Linked DNA regions of Homo sapiens: region 1 is linked to region 2. The links come from fine-mapping of genetic effects on gene expression. Tissue or cell type: thyroid. Region 2 holds a variant in brackets; the other region holds the start of a gene. All regions are shown on one strand. Distances are from middle to middle.

Evidence for each region. PIP is the estimated chance that this variant, and not a neighbour inherited with it, causes the effect.
Region 1: TDRKH starts here. The variant in region 2 is fine-mapped to the expression of TDRKH in thyroid (GTEx, PIP 0.95).

What each region holds. Positions count from the first base shown.
Region 1 is chr1:151,786,163-151,794,342 of GRCh38, forward strand. TDRKH (tudor and KH domain containing) reads right to left here and starts at 4,338. Exons shown (of 13, transcript NM_001083965.2): 1 at 4,218-4,338. TDRKH-AS1 (TDRKH antisense RNA 1) reads left to right here and starts at 4,587. Exons shown (of 2, transcript NR_146292.1): 1 at 4,587-5,083; 2 at 7,653-8,180. RefSeq lists a silencer at 4,023-4,282.
Region 2 is chr1:151,763,822-151,772,001 of GRCh38, forward strand. It overlaps OAZ3 (ornithine decarboxylase antizyme 3), which reads left to right and starts at 2,834. Exons shown (of 5, transcript NM_016178.2): 1 at 2,834-3,067; 2 at 3,342-3,478; 3 at 4,237-4,412; 4 at 6,351-6,436; 5 at 7,256-7,509. The coding sequence starts at 2,901. The coding sequence ends at 7,398. It also overlaps a transcript of TDRKH not described here. RefSeq lists enhancers at 5,249-5,945, 5,946-6,640. The variant G/A (reference allele first, on the strand shown) is at 4,123.

The sequences.
Region 1 (8,180 bases), 22 kb after region 2:
AGAGAAAGGAGAACATCTAGCACCGAAATCTCACTGAGGAGCAGATATAGTCAGGTAAGGGAGGCTGGAGGTAGATTTCTTACAACAGTCATCCTCTCTTATCCTCGAGGAATATGTTCCAAGAACCCCAGTGGATGCCTTGGAGTACTGAAAACTATAGGTTTTTTCAATCTGATAACCAAGATGGCTACTAAGTGACTAAGAGGCGGGTAGCATATACAGCATGGATATGCTGGACAAAGGCAGGATTCTCGTCTGGGCCAGGATGGAGATTTCACCATGCTAGTCAGAATGGTGCACAATTTAAAACTTAAGAATTGTTTACGTATGGAACTTCCCATTTAATCTTTTTGGACCAGGATTGACTATGGGTAAGTGAAAGCAAAACCACGGAGAAGGGTAGACTACTACACTGTCATACAGATGACCAGAATTTGCATCTGGCCTCACAGCTTTACTGATCAACAGAACTGAATAAAGTTCTTCAGAGAACTACCAGAAGTTTGCCAAATCTATTTTTTCTATATCCTGGTTTTAAACAAATTTAATCCACCTTCTTGCCCGGACTCAAAAGCCTGAGCAAATAATAAAACGGCCTTTTACTACCCGAGGTGGGGGATGGGTACCTCTTTTCAAGGGTGTCGTCTATTTTGGGTCATTAGTTACTCAGTGAATTCAGTATATCATTTTTAGAGACTATCAATCTGAGGGAATACTGTTCTCTCCCGACCTTTTTAGAATGTAGGACAGAAAGGGTTGAGGTTAATGTAGGCTGTTTGTTTTCATTTATGAGGTTCTTTTCCCAAGTCATTGGATAAGCTTCTCTTTTTTTAAATACACTGCAAATAAAAGCTTTCACCATCCTGAAAGTTTGGATGGTATTATATAAGCATCGTTGTATATACCAAAGGAAAGGAAACAAGTTGTTTCATAAAGGAGATTTTTGACTTAAATAATTCTTGAATACACACCTCCCAAACTGCTACTTTCCTACATTGAGATGGTTTATTCTTGGTGTCTAGAAAGAATTTGACTTCTTTTGTCCCCTGATTACTTTAGATATATATATTTTTTGAGACGGAGTCTCACTCTGTTGCCCAGGCTGGAGTGCAGTGGCACGATCTCAGCTCACTGCAACCTCTGCCTCCCGGGTTCAAGCGATTCTTCTGCCTCAGCCTAATGAGTAGCTGGGACGACAGGCACCTGCCACCATGCCCAGCTAATTTATGTATTTTTAGTAGAGACAGGGTTTCACCATATTGGCCAGGATGGTCTCGAACTGCTGACCTCATGATCCGCCCACCTCGGCCTCCCAAAGTGCTGGGATTACAGGCGTGAGCCACTGCGCCTGGCTTAGGTATTTTCTTATATGACCACTAAAGTGCAAAGCTTGTTTCCATTATTAATGCATCTTGGTTAAATAGTGCTAGCTCTTTCTTGTGTGCTGAGCACGTTGGGGACAGAAGGAGGAAGAAGAATTTCTACTTGGAAATATTCATAGTCTAGGAAACATAAACACCAAAACAGGCTGGGCACAGTGGCTCATGCCTGTTAATCCCAGCACTTTGAGAGGCTAAGGTAGGAGGACTGCTTGAGACCAAGTATTCAAGACTAGCCTGGGCAACATAGTGAGACTCTGTTTCTACAAAAAAAAAAAAAAAAAAAAAAAAAAAAAAATTAGCTAGGCGTGGTGTTGCACACCTGTAGTTCCAGCTACTCAGGAGGCCGAGGTGGGAGATGGCTTGAGCCCAGGAGGTGGAAGCTGCAGTAAACTGATGACACCACTGCACTCCACCCTGGGCAACAGAGCGAGAATTTGTCTCAAGGGGTTTAAAAAAAAAAAGTATAGGGCAAGATGTGTGTAGGTTATATACAAATAATATGCATCTTATACAAGGGACATGAGCATCTATGGATTTGGGTTCTGCAGGGTTCCTGGAACCAATCCCCTGCAAATAACGAAGGGAGGGACAACTGTATAAATTCTTGGTCAATGCGACAGTTGAAAGTAGCTAGAACCTTAAGGTTTATTTCTTAGATGGTGTATAGTTGAAAATCATCTCATTAAAATACAACTCACTTTTCTTCCGCAAACCTATACTACATGAATGAACTGCACTAAATGGACATTTATTCAAGCCAATAAATATCGAATTCTGATGTGTGCTTGACCCTCGGGACACAACAGTCAAGATAGATTTGGCAGCTGCCTTCATGGAGTTTCCTGTCTGGCAAGGAAGATCTTGACAGGCAGGAGTCTTTAGGTCTTAAGGGCTTTGGGAAACTGAAATCTAGCCCTGTGAACAAGAATAAACTGGATCTGTATTTTCATGCTGTCTGCTTTTAAAAACTGGCCATAATTGATGCTTATGGGGCATAGAAATCACAAGATTTTATAACTAGAAGGGACTACAGAACTTATTTGATTCCATTAATAACGTTGCAATTTGGGAAACTGCGGCTAAGGGATAGAAAAGGATTGATCTAAGATCACACAGCTCATTAGTCATTTCTACACAATACAGTGTGCAATAGAAATAAGTCTGTTTTGATGGCCAGTCATAATCACACCTCTTTACAGAGGCCCAAAGGACTAGCAGCACTTTTGTTTTCCAGTTCTGACACTATCAAGATCAAGTGCAGAGGGGTCTCTGCAGCCAAGGCCCCTCAATCTCGACCCCCTACACTGGGTTGAATTACATTGCTATGGGTTTCCACAGAATCCCCAATATCCCTTGATAACACATGCCATGCTTGTCATTCTTGATTAACATCTGTGTCCGTGGTGAGGAGAATGAATTGAAGGCAGCAACCGTGGCTGCAGGAGACCAATCAGGGCCTAGTCCAGGTGTCAATGATGGAGATGGAGAACAGATGAATTGGAGAGTTTGTTGTTGTTTATTTAGAGACAGAGCCTTGGTCTGTCACCCAGGATGGAATGCAGTGAATGATAATAGCTCACTGCAGCCTTGAACTCCCGCAGTCGTCCGGCGTAGCTGAGATTATAGGTGCGGTTTTGGCCGACTTCTATTTGAAGCAAAAGGTAAATTTCACTAACTCCTCTTCAAACATTACAAATGAATTTGTGCTAATTGAGTTATCAGCTGATGTCTCAAAAAATGAGACTCTACTTGATCTGTCACTATGGTTTTGTTCACAATTTTCATATCCTTTCAGCTATAAGTTTCTCTTAAAGAGAAATGGAAAATAATATAATGTAAACGGGGATAACTGCATAGTACTGACTGCTAGCTTGTGTTTGATTTTATTACTTAAAAATTGAATGGGAAGGAGGAAAATACTAGAACTTAAGACCACAGTTTCTAGGGGAAGCTAAGAAGAGAAGATGAGGATCATTGTTCAGTGAGGAATGTGGTTAGATAATGGTTTTCAGTGAAAGCTAACTTTGAAATTTCCTGACATTTGTATTGAACAATTGCCAAAAACTATCTGATATGCATCGCTAAGGCTTACTTTATCATTTAAAATGACAGGAGTCAAATAGGATGTGATGAGAAGTCAAATCACATTGTTAGCTCCATGAAAGCATAGATAACTCATTCCAGTATCTCCTAATAACCAGAACCTACAAAGAACCTACAACATGGTGACATGCTTGAATCGAAGCAGCTCAATGTTCTCATCCTTGGTACGTTTATTTTAAATTCACGAGAAAAAAAAAAGTGTCAACCCCTTTCTCTCAAAACAAGGAAAGGGTCTAAAAGTCAGTCTTTGAAATAGGGGTCTCCAGCCAACCCCCACGATGATACCTGGATTAAGGAATGAGGGATACTGGAAAAACAAAAACCCCAATGTATTATTCTGACGACTGTAAACAGCCATCCTATTAGCGATAACTAAAGAAAAAGCTGGGGAAAGTTAAAGGCAAAGTGATATACGGATGGCAGCTCTCAGTCTCAAAAAGGCCCAGTGGAAGAGTCTGAACTGACTCAGGGCAAACACAAACGCTCCCGCACCGGGTCCGTTGTGGCGTAAGCGGGTGACTGGAGCATCTTCCTCAGATACAGTTACGAGTTCCCAGTGGGTCAAGTTGCCCCCGAGCGGCGTCTCACAGCCCAGGGCTCTGACTCCCCCGCTGCGCCCCACATCCTTCCCTCGCCCCGGGGCACGCCAGACCCCTCCCTTCCCTCGCTCCCGCATTTCCGTCTCCTAGTGGCCAGGGCTGCCCATGACCCTGTCTTTCCCACTCCCCAAACCTTCGGTCTCCATCCTCGCCTTTACCGCTGCTCCAGTCAGCCGTCGAGTGCGCCGCCTCGCGCCTCACCCCAGCTGCAGCCACCAGCGCCGCCGCCTCCCACTCACACCACCACAGTGAGCCCCGCCGGCGGCGCTTCAGCCGCCACTTCCCCGCCCCCGCAGCCCGACAGCACCAATCAACACCCTGCTCGCAGTCCGACCAATCGCCTTCTCCCGTCACAACCAATCCTTCCGCGGGCTGCCCCTGAGCGACGTGGCTGCTGCTAGCCGCTGCCCAATTACCCGGATGGAATCCAAAGCAGGCCCACCCTGTCAGCCAATAAGATCCAGGAAAAGCAGATGTTGTTAACTGAGACCGCACCTGCTGAGAATTAAACAGCCAATTACAAGCTTCCCGGCGTCCTCGCAGACCACCTCTAGGCCAATTACCGAGGAGTTTTCTATCTTCTAACCCTTGGAGGAAAATCTGCGCTCCAGCAGCTGGGACCGAGGCATGAGAGCGTTGAATCATGAGTGGCACCGTTCGCAAAAATTGGTGTCTTTGTACAAAGACAGTGCCACAACACAACTCAGTGACCATCGGGAGAGCAGCCTCATGATGGGCGATGCTCCATCAGTTTTCTCTTGCGATCTTTTGCATAGATCGGTCCCGCCCCGCATATGGCGATGAGGACTCAAGAGACACGGAAAACGTTTTCTTTCTGGAAAACATGAAATAGGCTTTGTAGATGGACAGGAAGTCAAGGGACAAGCGGTGCGCCGCAGAGAGCGAGGACCCACTCTTCTATTCCTTTGCGGAGGCACGGACACACGGTGTGGCCCGAAACAGCGGCAGGAGAGTGAGACCCGGGCTCCGACCGCGGTGGTAAGGGGGCGGCGGGCCATAGGGGCGCCAGGGGCCCACCCTTCCCTGGGGATTCGAGGAAACGGGTCGAGGCGACAGCGTGAAGGCCTACGCCGGGGGAGGGGGTGGTGGCGGGGGGCGTTTCTGTGGGGGCGAGGAAGGGAGCGGGTCTCCGCAGGCGGAAGTTTGCTTTGGAAGATTTTATTCCAGACGCTGTCCTGGTCCCTGGACGGTTAGGAACGGTTGGGTCCTGCTACTGCCTCCGTGGGGCAGGGAGCCTCGCGAGACCAGCACTGCGCCCTACTCGGTCCACCCTGTCCCCGCTCCGCGCTAGGGGCTCACCCTGGGAACAGGGGTCGGGCGATCCTGGTCATTGGGGGATCTTCCGCACTAGCTTCCATCACAATACCTGGCAGGTGATGAGCAATAAATATTTGCTGAAAGAACGCAAGGTTGTATCTTTTGTCAATTAGGCAGATGCCTTTGGGCCTCAGGTTTTGCTTTCTATTAATATAAAAATGTGTATGCGTTTTGAATAAGTAATACATTTACATTCTACAAAATTCAGAAGAAACAAGGTTATTATAGTGAATAAATTTTCCTTCCTTCAAGGCAACTAGGGTTACCAGTTTCTTGTGAAAAATTTCACAAGATATTCTATAGTTAACGTGTGTATATGTGTAATATATAAAGTGTATATATATATACACACACATATATTTTTTTAACCCAGTTGATAACATACATACTATTTTGCAACTTTCTTTGATACAGTCTGGAAATGTTTCCGTAGCAGCATATACGTATCTGCCTCATAGTGATAGTTTCATAGTATGCCTGAGGGATATATGAAGATATATTTAACCAGTCCTTTAACATTTGATTGATATGCAAGGATACTTCATTTCCCTCTTGCATATGTGTATGATAAATACTTAGAAATGCAAGTGCCAAGTTAAAGAAATGTGTGCATTGTTTTTTCATTTGGATAGATAAAATTTTGTAAATTCCCTTCCTCCCACAAAGATTTTTATAATTTTAATCCCACCAGCAATTTTTGAAAATGATTTTAGTTAGTATTACCAAATTGCCTTCCCTGGAAATTTTACCAATTTTGTCTCCTGTCAGCAATGTATGAAAAGAACCTGTTTGATAGCACACTGGTGCTGTTAAACTTCCTGATTTTTGACAATCTGATAGTGTAAATGCTATCTCATTGCAAGATAAAATTTCATTGCTCTTATAAGTAAAGTTGAGCATCTTTTAATATATTTAAATGGCAATTTTTTTGTAAATTCTCTGTTTTTATATTCTGTTCATATTTTTATTGGTTATAGGGTCATTTCTTAATACTTGCTGTTTGTATATAAGTTAAAAGTATTTTCCCCGGCCAGGTGTGGTGGGTCACGCCTGTAATCCCAGCACTTTGGGAGGCTGAGGCAGGCTAATCACCTGAGGTCAGGAGTTCAAGACCAGCCTGGCCAACATGCTGAAACCCCGTCTTTATTAAAAATACAAAAATTAGCCGGTTATGGTGGCAAGCGCTTGTAATCCCAGCTACTTGGGAGACTGAGGCAGGAGAATCACTTGAACTGGGGAAGCGGTGGTTGCAGTGAGCCGAGATTGCCACTGCACTCCAGCCTGGGCAACAGAGCGAGACCCCATCTCCAAAAAAAAAAAAAAAAAGTATGTCCCTTTTCCCAGTTTGTTCTATGTATATTGTTTATACATATAACAAGTATTTTCCCTTTTCCAAGTTTGTTCTATGTATATTGCATATTTTGAGGCTGGTCTCCAACTCCTGACCTCAGGTGATCAGCCTGCCTCAGCCTCCCAAAGTGCTAGGATTACAGGCCTGAGCCATTGCCCTCAGCCTGTTTATGGTTATTCTTTGCAAATGTTAAAAATTTTTATGTAATTGAATTTATCAATATTTTCTTTGATAATTTCTGGGTTTCTTTCTTTCTTTTTTTGAGGCAGAGTCTCATTCTGTCGCCCAGGCTGGAGTGCAGTGGCATGATCTTGGCCCACTGTAACCTCTGCTTCCCAGGTTGAAGAGATTCTCGTGCCTCAGCCTCCTGAGTAGTTGGGATTACAGGCATGTACCACCATACCTGGGTAATTTTTGTATTTTTTAGTAGACTCGGAGTAGTTTTGCCATGTTGGCCAGACTGGTCTCAAACTCCTGGCCTCAAGTGATCCACCCGCCTTAGCCTCCCAAAGTATTGGTATTACAGGCGTGAGCCACTGTGCCTGGCCAACTTCTGTGTTTCATATAATTTTTAGTAAAGTCTCCCACTATTTAAGATTATTCTTAAAGCTCCTATGTTTTTTTAAAAAGTACTTTGATAGTGTCTTTGTATATGTAAATATTTGATTCATCTGGAATTTATTTTGGTGTAAAGGTGTGAGATAGAGATCCAATTTTGTTTTGTTTTATTCAAATCCTTCTTATTGAATAACCCATGTTTTCTCCATTGTTTTTGAATGCTACCTTTATAATACCAAATTGCCATATGTATTTGGGTCTATTTCTGGATTTTTTTCATTTTGTTCCATTGATCATTAATTTTTTTTTTTTTTTTTTTAGACGGAGTCTCACTCTGTCACCCAGGCTGGAGTGCAGTGGCACGATCTCGGCTCACTGGAACCTCCAACTCCCTGGTTCAAGCGATTCTCCTGCCTCAGCCTCCCGAATAGCTGGGACTACAGGTGCCCACCACCACACCTGGCTAATTTTTTGTATTTTTAGTAGAGACGGGGTTTCACCGTGTTAGCCAGGATGGTCTCGGTCTCCTGACCTGGTGATCCGCCCGCCTCGGCCTCCCAAAGTGCTGGGATTACAGGCATGAGCCACTGCGCCCGGCCTAAAAATTTTTTAAATTGTATACATTATGGTTTTTTTTTTTACCACAATTTAAAAAATTAATTTATAATATACATGCAGAAAAATGCACAAATGACAAGTATATATCTTGATGAATTTTCACAAATGGAATACATTTGTGTAACCAGCAGCAGATCAAGAAACAGAACATTGCTAGTGCCCCAGAAGCCACTTGTGTGTTCCCTCTCAGTCACTGCTCTTCTCAAGGACAACCACTCTTCTGACTCCTGA
Region 2 (8,180 bases):
CTCACTTTTCCTTACTTCAAATCTACCTAAAAGTGGTAAAGGATGGGATCCCTTGGAAAACTCTGCCAGCTCCAGGAGGAGCCTGACCCTTAATCATTATACTGCAGTATTTAAGCTAATAAAGGAGAATTCTAAATCACAAGCTATGTAAACCGTAGAAAAAAAAGCAACTATGGTAAGGCCGCGACAGTTCCCTCTGGGGAGGGTCTCAGTACTGGACAGAAGACCATAAAAACTGGATGAAAGAAGGTCCATTTGGCAGAGATTATGGAAAGACTGGCCCTTAAACATACTGACCAGTCCTCCTTCCTCCTAAATACACTACTTGGCCTCCTGGACACCGGTCTTCTTCAGTCTCGTTTGCTGATTTCTCCTTTTCTCCCCGCTTCTTAGAATGCCCTCGGGACTCCGTTTTTGAACCTTTACTCTTCTCAGTATACACTCACTGTTGATCTCATCCAGTCTCGTGGCTTACAATACCATTTATAAGCCAATGACTCCCAAATTTCTAGTTCCATCCTAGACATCTCCCAAACTCGTCTCAAATATTCAACTGTTTATTCGTCATTTTCCTCTTACGTATCCAAAGGACACCTCAAAGTTAACTGTCCCAAACTAATTTATTTATTCCCCCCTCGCCCCCAAAACTGCCCCATCTGCAGCCTTTTTCCTCTCAGTTGACAGAAACTCCATTCTTTCCATTCTAACTCTTTTCTCTCATACTCCATCAGGAAATCCTGTGGGTTCTACCTTTAAATTACAGATAGTCCCTGACTTGGATTTACAATTTTTGAGTTTGTGATGGTGTGAAAGTGATGTGCACTCAGTAGGACATCAATAAGTTACATGAAATATTCAACACTTTATTATAAAATAGGCTTTGTGTTAGATGATTTTACCCAACTGTCGGATAAGTTGTCTGAGCATGTTTAAGATAGGCTAGGCTAAGCTATGGTGTTTGGTAGGTGTATTATATGCATTTTCAACTTATGATACTTTCAACATACGATGGGTTTATCAGGACATAACCCTATTTTAAGTCAAGGAGCACTTGTATTTCCAGAATCCAGCCACTTGTCACCACCTCCAATGCTCTACCTTGGAATAAGACACTACTTTCTCCTGGATTACTGCAATAGTCCCCTAAAAGATATCCCTTAATTCTCTACAGTTTATAATTCTATGTAGCTTATTTATAGCAGCCAGAATGATCTTTTTAAAGCATAAGTCAGATCATGTCATTCTTCCACCCAAAACTTTGTAATGACTTCCTCCTTTACTCAAGGTAAAAGAAAAAGGCCATCAGATGGTCTACAAGGCCATACATACTCTGACCCCATTAGCTCCTCTCTAATTTACACTGCTCCACCCACAGTGGCCTCCTTGTTTCTTGAAAACACCAGGCACGTTTCCTGCTCAGGGCTTTTGCACTGGCTGCTTTTGCGTTGGATGCTCTTATCCTCAGATGCTGGCTTGGTTAACAACCTCACATCCTCCAAGTGTTTAATTAAATGTCAGTTTTTTTCAGTGAGAGATCACCCTATTTCTTACTGTAACCCTGACCCATCCCCTTCACATTCCTTATCTTCCTTTATCTTGCTCTATTCCCCCCACCCCATAGCAGTTACCTTCTAACATACTAAACAATTTACTATGTTTATTTTCTAGGTTTGTCCTCTCACTTTTAGAAGATACGTTCCATAGGGCAGGGATTTGTTTTGTTCACTGATGTATCATCTCAAGCACCTAGAATAGTGCCTGGCTAATAGTAGACCCTCAATAAATATTTGTTGAATGGATAAATATGCAGAGGTCTCAAAGTGGCAGTCCCAGAACCAAATTTTGCTTACAATGTTGTTTTTTTATCAACAATTTTTTAGTAGTTGATTTTTTTTTTTTTTTGAGTTGGAGTCTCGCTATGTTGCCCAGGCTGGAGTGCAGTGGCACGATCTCAGCTCACTGCAAGCTCCGCCTCCTGGGTTCACGCCATTCTCCTGCCTCAGCCTCCCGTGTAGCTGGGAATACAGGCGCCTGCCACCACGCCCGGCTAATTTTTTGTATTTTTAGTACAGACAGAGTTTCATCGTGTTAGCCAGGATGGTCTCGATCTCCTGACCTCGTGATCCGCCCGCCTCGGCCTCCCAAAGCGCTGGGATTACAGACGTGAGCCACCGTGCCCGGCCCAGTAGTCGATATTTTTTAAAATTGGTGAGATTTACTACAAAACTGTCTTTCCAGTTTCTGTTCAAAAATCATACGATACAGCACCATCAAGTCTGCATTCTTGCATGGAACTGGATGGAATTGAGTTGTGTGGACTTCCTTTAGATAACGTGTGAGCTTTCCTATTTTGCTACAGCCCTACCCTGCCACTCCACTAATTTCCATAAGCTGTCTAGGCCCCTGAAGGGGCCTAGACAATTAGTTTGCAATTCCTACCCTACAAGGATCCTGGGTTATTAAGGGTAGGGATGATAATAAAAATACTCAACTGGTATGAACTGGGAACCAACTAATCAGGTCACCACTGGATCAGAGCCTTGGAAGAGTCAGATACCAACTCTTTACTTGCTGGATTTTGGGGGAAGGGGAGTGTCCACAGAGGAGCAGGGTGGGTGGGCACAAGTGCTCAGGCAGGGCTTTTGGCCAACCAGTACAGAAGTCTTCAAGTTCTATTTTTTAATCATTCATACAGCCATAACATGCATACTAGTCGAATATGAGCCTTGGATAAGGGATTAGGGTAGATAAGCAGCAGAGTGGAGTCCTGAGGTGACATAAGGGCTGACCCCTTATCCATGTCATAGTGCCCACTGGGTCACAATGCCACCAGGTTGCCTAAACCTCTGCCACCCACCTGTGAACTTCACTTTGCCACAGGGAGGCACTGAACTGAAAAACTGCCTTGTAAGAGGTGTCGCCCCTCTGTCTACTCCCTTTCTTATATCAAGAGGGGAAAAACACGTAACTACCTCTACCCGATCTGGTCACCATACGCCTATTACCTTTACTGTTACAAGTACCGGATCACTCTCCGGGAGAAGATGCTGCCTCGTTGTTATAAAAGGTACTTGTTTTCATCTCTATTTGTAGTTGTTTATATAAAATGTAAGGAAAAAGTAAAAGAATTTGAAAGAATTTCCCAAATGGCAAGAAATAACAACAGAATAGGGGGTGGAAAGCTGGCATGGAACTTTAGAATTTTTCCATCTGGTTGGGCCCAGGAACATAGAAACAGGCTGGACAACAGAAAATACAGAAGATCATGCCAGAGCCTGGTACTGTGTATCTTCCCACCTCAGATTCCAAGATAAACTAATTTGGGTCTCTTTCCCAACCAGCATCACTTATAAGGAAGAGGAGGACTTGACACTCCAGCCCCGTTCCTGCCTCCAGTGCTCCTGAGTCCCTAGTAGGCCTCCAGGAGGGCAAAAGCACCGAGCAGGGTAACCACGACCAGCTTAAAGAACTGTATTCGGTAAGTGGACTGTGAGCTAGTGCTGTGACAGGGCAACCCTTTTCTTGCATACCTTGCAGAGGAGGGACATTAGCAAGTTGGAAGATGAATTACAGAGGTAGATGGAATCTTGGAACGCATGTGTAAAAGCTACTTGCTATATAGACAAGCATTCTGGCCCACAGACTGTAAAATCAAGGTCATACAGATGGTAGTGAAAATCAGGATTGGGAAAAGAGGGAGTGGGGACAAAGGTAAAACAAACTCTGTAGGACTTCTGGGACATAAAGCTGTTTATGCCAAGATCCTGCTTAAAGATGCTAAGCAGGATCTGGAATCCAGAACTTGCCCACATATCATATTGCAATAACAAGCCTGGTTGTAACCATGGCATTTTAAATAGAAGAATTTAGAGAAAACCCATATAATGAAAAAAGTGGAAATTATTAGTGAGAAAGGAAGCACATTATAAAGCTTTGTTTAAATCCTAAGCTCTCTGATGTAAACATTTCTAAGTTCCTAAATGGTTATTGTACTCCTGGGTTGAAGTCAACAGGCAGTAATACTGCCTCAGCTGGATTGTTTGATATAAAGGAGAACTCCACAATAGGCATAGGCTATTAGTTCCTGGGACTAAGGGATATTATTGCATCTTTAAGATCTTG[G/A]CTCCAATTCTCCCAGGCTCTCCCCATCAATGCCCACCTTGCTTCAACGGACACACCCCCATCTGCCTGAGGTCTGATTTGAAGACTAGAGGAGCATTTTTACTCCTTTTCCAGGCTGGGAACTTGACGGTGCTGGCTACTGACCCCCTGCTCCACCAGGACCCAGTACAGTTAGACTTTCACTTCCGCCTTACCTCCCAGACCTCTGCCCATTGGCACGGCCTTCTCTGTGACCGTCGACTCTTCCTGGATATCCCATATCAGGCCTTGGATCAAGGCAACCGGGAAAGGTGACTGAGCCTGGATGGGAGAATGGGGAGGGAATAGGTAGGGGATTTCACCCTTCTATCATGTCATAGTACATAAGGCTAATTCTGGAGCTAGATATAAGCAATCCATTCACCTGGCATGCAGACAAGCCTGTGAGCTGAGCCAGGATCTGGGGTTCAAGGGATAAGAGTCCATGGGAAGCTGGACTCAGATCCAGAAATAGTTGAATAACGGGAAGTACTTTCTAGCTGTTCATCTCAGTAGTCCTTTCTCCCCAGACCCCTTCTGTGGCTTACATCCAGTGATGTGCAATCTCTTGGCTTCCAAGAAAAATCTACCAAAACTAGTTTAGCAACTTTCATTTCCTGGCTTGGGTGGGTGGAGGGCAGAAAACGACCAATAATATTTTTACTGCTCCAAGTAGGTGTCTTTCTGGATTCTGAGTTGGCCAAATTTTTTTTTCCCAGTATTTATTGATCATTCTTGGGTGTTTCTCACAGAGGGGGATTTGGCAGGGTCATAGGACAATAGTGGAGGGAAGGTCAGCAGATAAACAAGTGAACAAGGGTCTCTGGTTTTCCTAGGCAGAGGACCCTGCGGCCTTCCGCAGTGTTTGTGTCCCTGGGTACTTGAGATTAGGGAGTGGTGATGACTCTTAACGAGCATGCTGCCTTCAAGCATCTGTTTAACAAAGCACATCTTGCACCGCCCTTAATCCATTTAACCCTGAGTGGACACAGCACGTTTCAGAGAGCATGGGGTTGGGGGTAAGGTTATAGATTAACAGCATCCCAAGGCAGAAGAATTTTTCTTAGTACAGAACAAAATGGAGTCTCCTATGTCTACTTCTTTCTACACAGACACAGCAACAATCTGATTTCTCTATCTTTTCCCCACATTTCCCCCTTTTCTATTCGACAAAACCGCCATCGTCATCATGGCCCATTCTCAATGAGCTCTTGGGTACACCTCCCAGACGGTGTGGCGGCCGGGCAGAGGGGCTCACTTCCCAAAAGGGGCGGCCGGGCAGACGCACCCCCCACCTCCCGGAGGGGGCGGTGGCCGGGTGGGGACTGCCCCCCACCTCCCTCCCAGACGGGGCGGCTGACCGGGCGGGGGCTGCCCCCCACCTCCCGGACGGGGCAGCTGCCGGGCGGAGACGCCCCTCACTTCCCAGACGAGGCGGCTGCCGGGCGGAGGGGCTCCTCACTTCTCAGACAGGGCGGACGGGCAGAGATGCTCCTCACCTCCCAGATGGGGTCGCGGCTGGGCAGAGACACTCCTCAGTTCCCAGACAGGGTCGTGGCCGGGTAGAGGCGCTCCCCACATCCCAGACGATGGGCGGCTGGGCGGAGACGCTCCTCACTTCCTAGACGGGATGACGGCCGGGCAGAGGCGCTCCTCACATCCCAGACGATGGGCGGCCAGGCAGAGACGCTCCTCACTTCCCAGACGGGGTGGTGGCCGGGCAGAGGCTGCAATCTCGGCACTTTGGGAGGCCAAGGCAGGCGGCTGGGAGGTGGAGGTTGTAGCGAGCCGAGATCACGCCACTGCACTCCAGCCTGGGCAACACTGAGCACTGAGTGAACGAGGCTCCGTCTGCAATCCCGGCACCTCAGGAGGCCGAGGCTGGCAGATCACTCGTGGTTAGGAGCTGGAGACCAGCCCGGCCAACACAGCGAAACCCCGTCTCCACCAAAATACGAAAACCAGTCAGGCATGGCGGCACGCGCCTGCAATCCCAGGCACTCAGCAGGCTGAGGCAGGAGAATCAGGCAGGGAGGTTGCAGTGAGCCGAGATGGCAGCAGTACAGTCCAGCTTCGGCTTTCACAACTTTGGTGGCATCAGAGGGAGACCGTGGAGAGAGAGGGAGAGGGAGACCATGGGGAGACGGAGACGGAGAGGGAGAGGGAGAGGGAGCGGCCAAACATTTTAACTGTTTTTCTGTGGCTCCTAGTTTGACTGCAACCCTGGAGTACGTGGAAGAGAAGACAAATGTGGACTCTGTGTTTGTGAACTTCCAGAATGATCGGAACGACAGAGGTGGGGATCTGCTGTTCTTCCTTGCTTTTCGCGCTGAGGCAGCTGGATAACTCCTTTTCCTTTATAGGAGACCCTCTTCCCCTGTCTTTAAAAATGCACCCTCAGGCATTTCAGGGATTCTTTTCTTCCCACCTACCACGAAGGTGGGAAGTTGTAACTTGTTCCATCAAGTTACAACTGGACTCTGAGGAAGCCCCTGCAGGTGGTGTTAGGGGCCAGACTGAAGGAGCACTGGTGAAATTACACAGAATCCATTCAAGGGATGTGGCCAGCAGGACAAAATGGATCTCAAACATATGGAGCACCTACAATGTGAAAGGGTCAGACATAAGGCCAAGGGAACGGGGACATATTTAACCGGATGCCTGGAGCATATGTTACAGAAACTATAGCCTCTTGCCTCAAGGAGCTCAAACTCTGTTGGATATAAGGGATGGTGAATAACCATTCATAAGTGATAGATACTATTTCAGAGCTTACTATGTCATCATTGTATTAGTATATAGGTAGACCTCACTAATCTCTAGTGTTAAGCACTTCATGAACATCTCATTTCATCTTAAATTCTGTGAGGAGGAAGGTTCTATGATTTATAAATGGAAAATTCTATAGATGGAAACTGAAGTTCTGCAGGACTAACTCACAGAACAAGTGTTAAAACCAGAGTTAGAGCCTAGGTCTGTTGGACTAAAGCACATCCTATATGCCTGCACTACACTGCTTCCCAGGGCCACTCCCTAGTGGAAGAAATCAAATCTGGGGGCATACATGTATTGAGTTTTAAAGCATGTTCTAATCATTTGTTCTATCCTTTCACAGGTGCCCTGCTGCGGGCCTTCAGCTACATGGGCTTTGAGGTGGTCAGACCAGATCACCCTGCCCTCCCTCCCTTGGACAATGTCATCTTTATGGTGTATCCCCTTGAAAGGGATGTTGGCCACCTGCCCAGTGAGCCTCCTTGAACATGCTTATTCCAACGCTTTGAGGGGCTGGAAGCCTTGACACATGGAATCAGGGGCCCGGGATGTGATTCAGGACACTTTCCATCCTAGGAATAAAGGGTAGTGCAATCATCAAGTGTTCACGGTTTCTTGGGGGGGTGGGTAATAGGGTTGACTGGAGTGGGATATACACCTTAACAGAGCTAAATTCACTGAAAAGATCACAGGGACCTGAACTACGGAGGAAAGTACCTAAGGATTTTTGGTTCCCTTTGCCTTCCTCCATGCCCCAAACTATTTCCCCATTTATTCTAACCATTTACTGAGCACTAATCAGTGAACTTCCTAGTTCAGAAAGACTGAGCTTTGTTAGGCTGTTTTTATCCATATATTTCAGTTGAGGTGCTATAGATGTGGAGAAAACCAGAGAAGGCACATAGATCTCTTGGCTTTGGCCCAAGTTGGGGGATCTCAACGGACAGAATAGGTAACATAGAAGAGGGCATTCCAGGCAGCAGGAAAAGTACTGGGTTATACTAACAGAATGACAAAGAACCCATCAGAATGGGCTGTAAACAGGTAAGACTTAAAGGCATATTAAAGAAAAAGACTTTTATACATAGTAACAAACTGCAGGTAAGAATGAGACATTACTCATTTTCCAGGGTAGGAAGTCTTATGAATGATTTATATCAGGGAACCTCTAAAGAGTAAAGGTTCCCTACGGAACTCTGGTAGCACCAGTTCCAGGGCTGAGCATGCTTCAGCGAGTTCATTGCAGGCAACATCTGAAACATCAAATA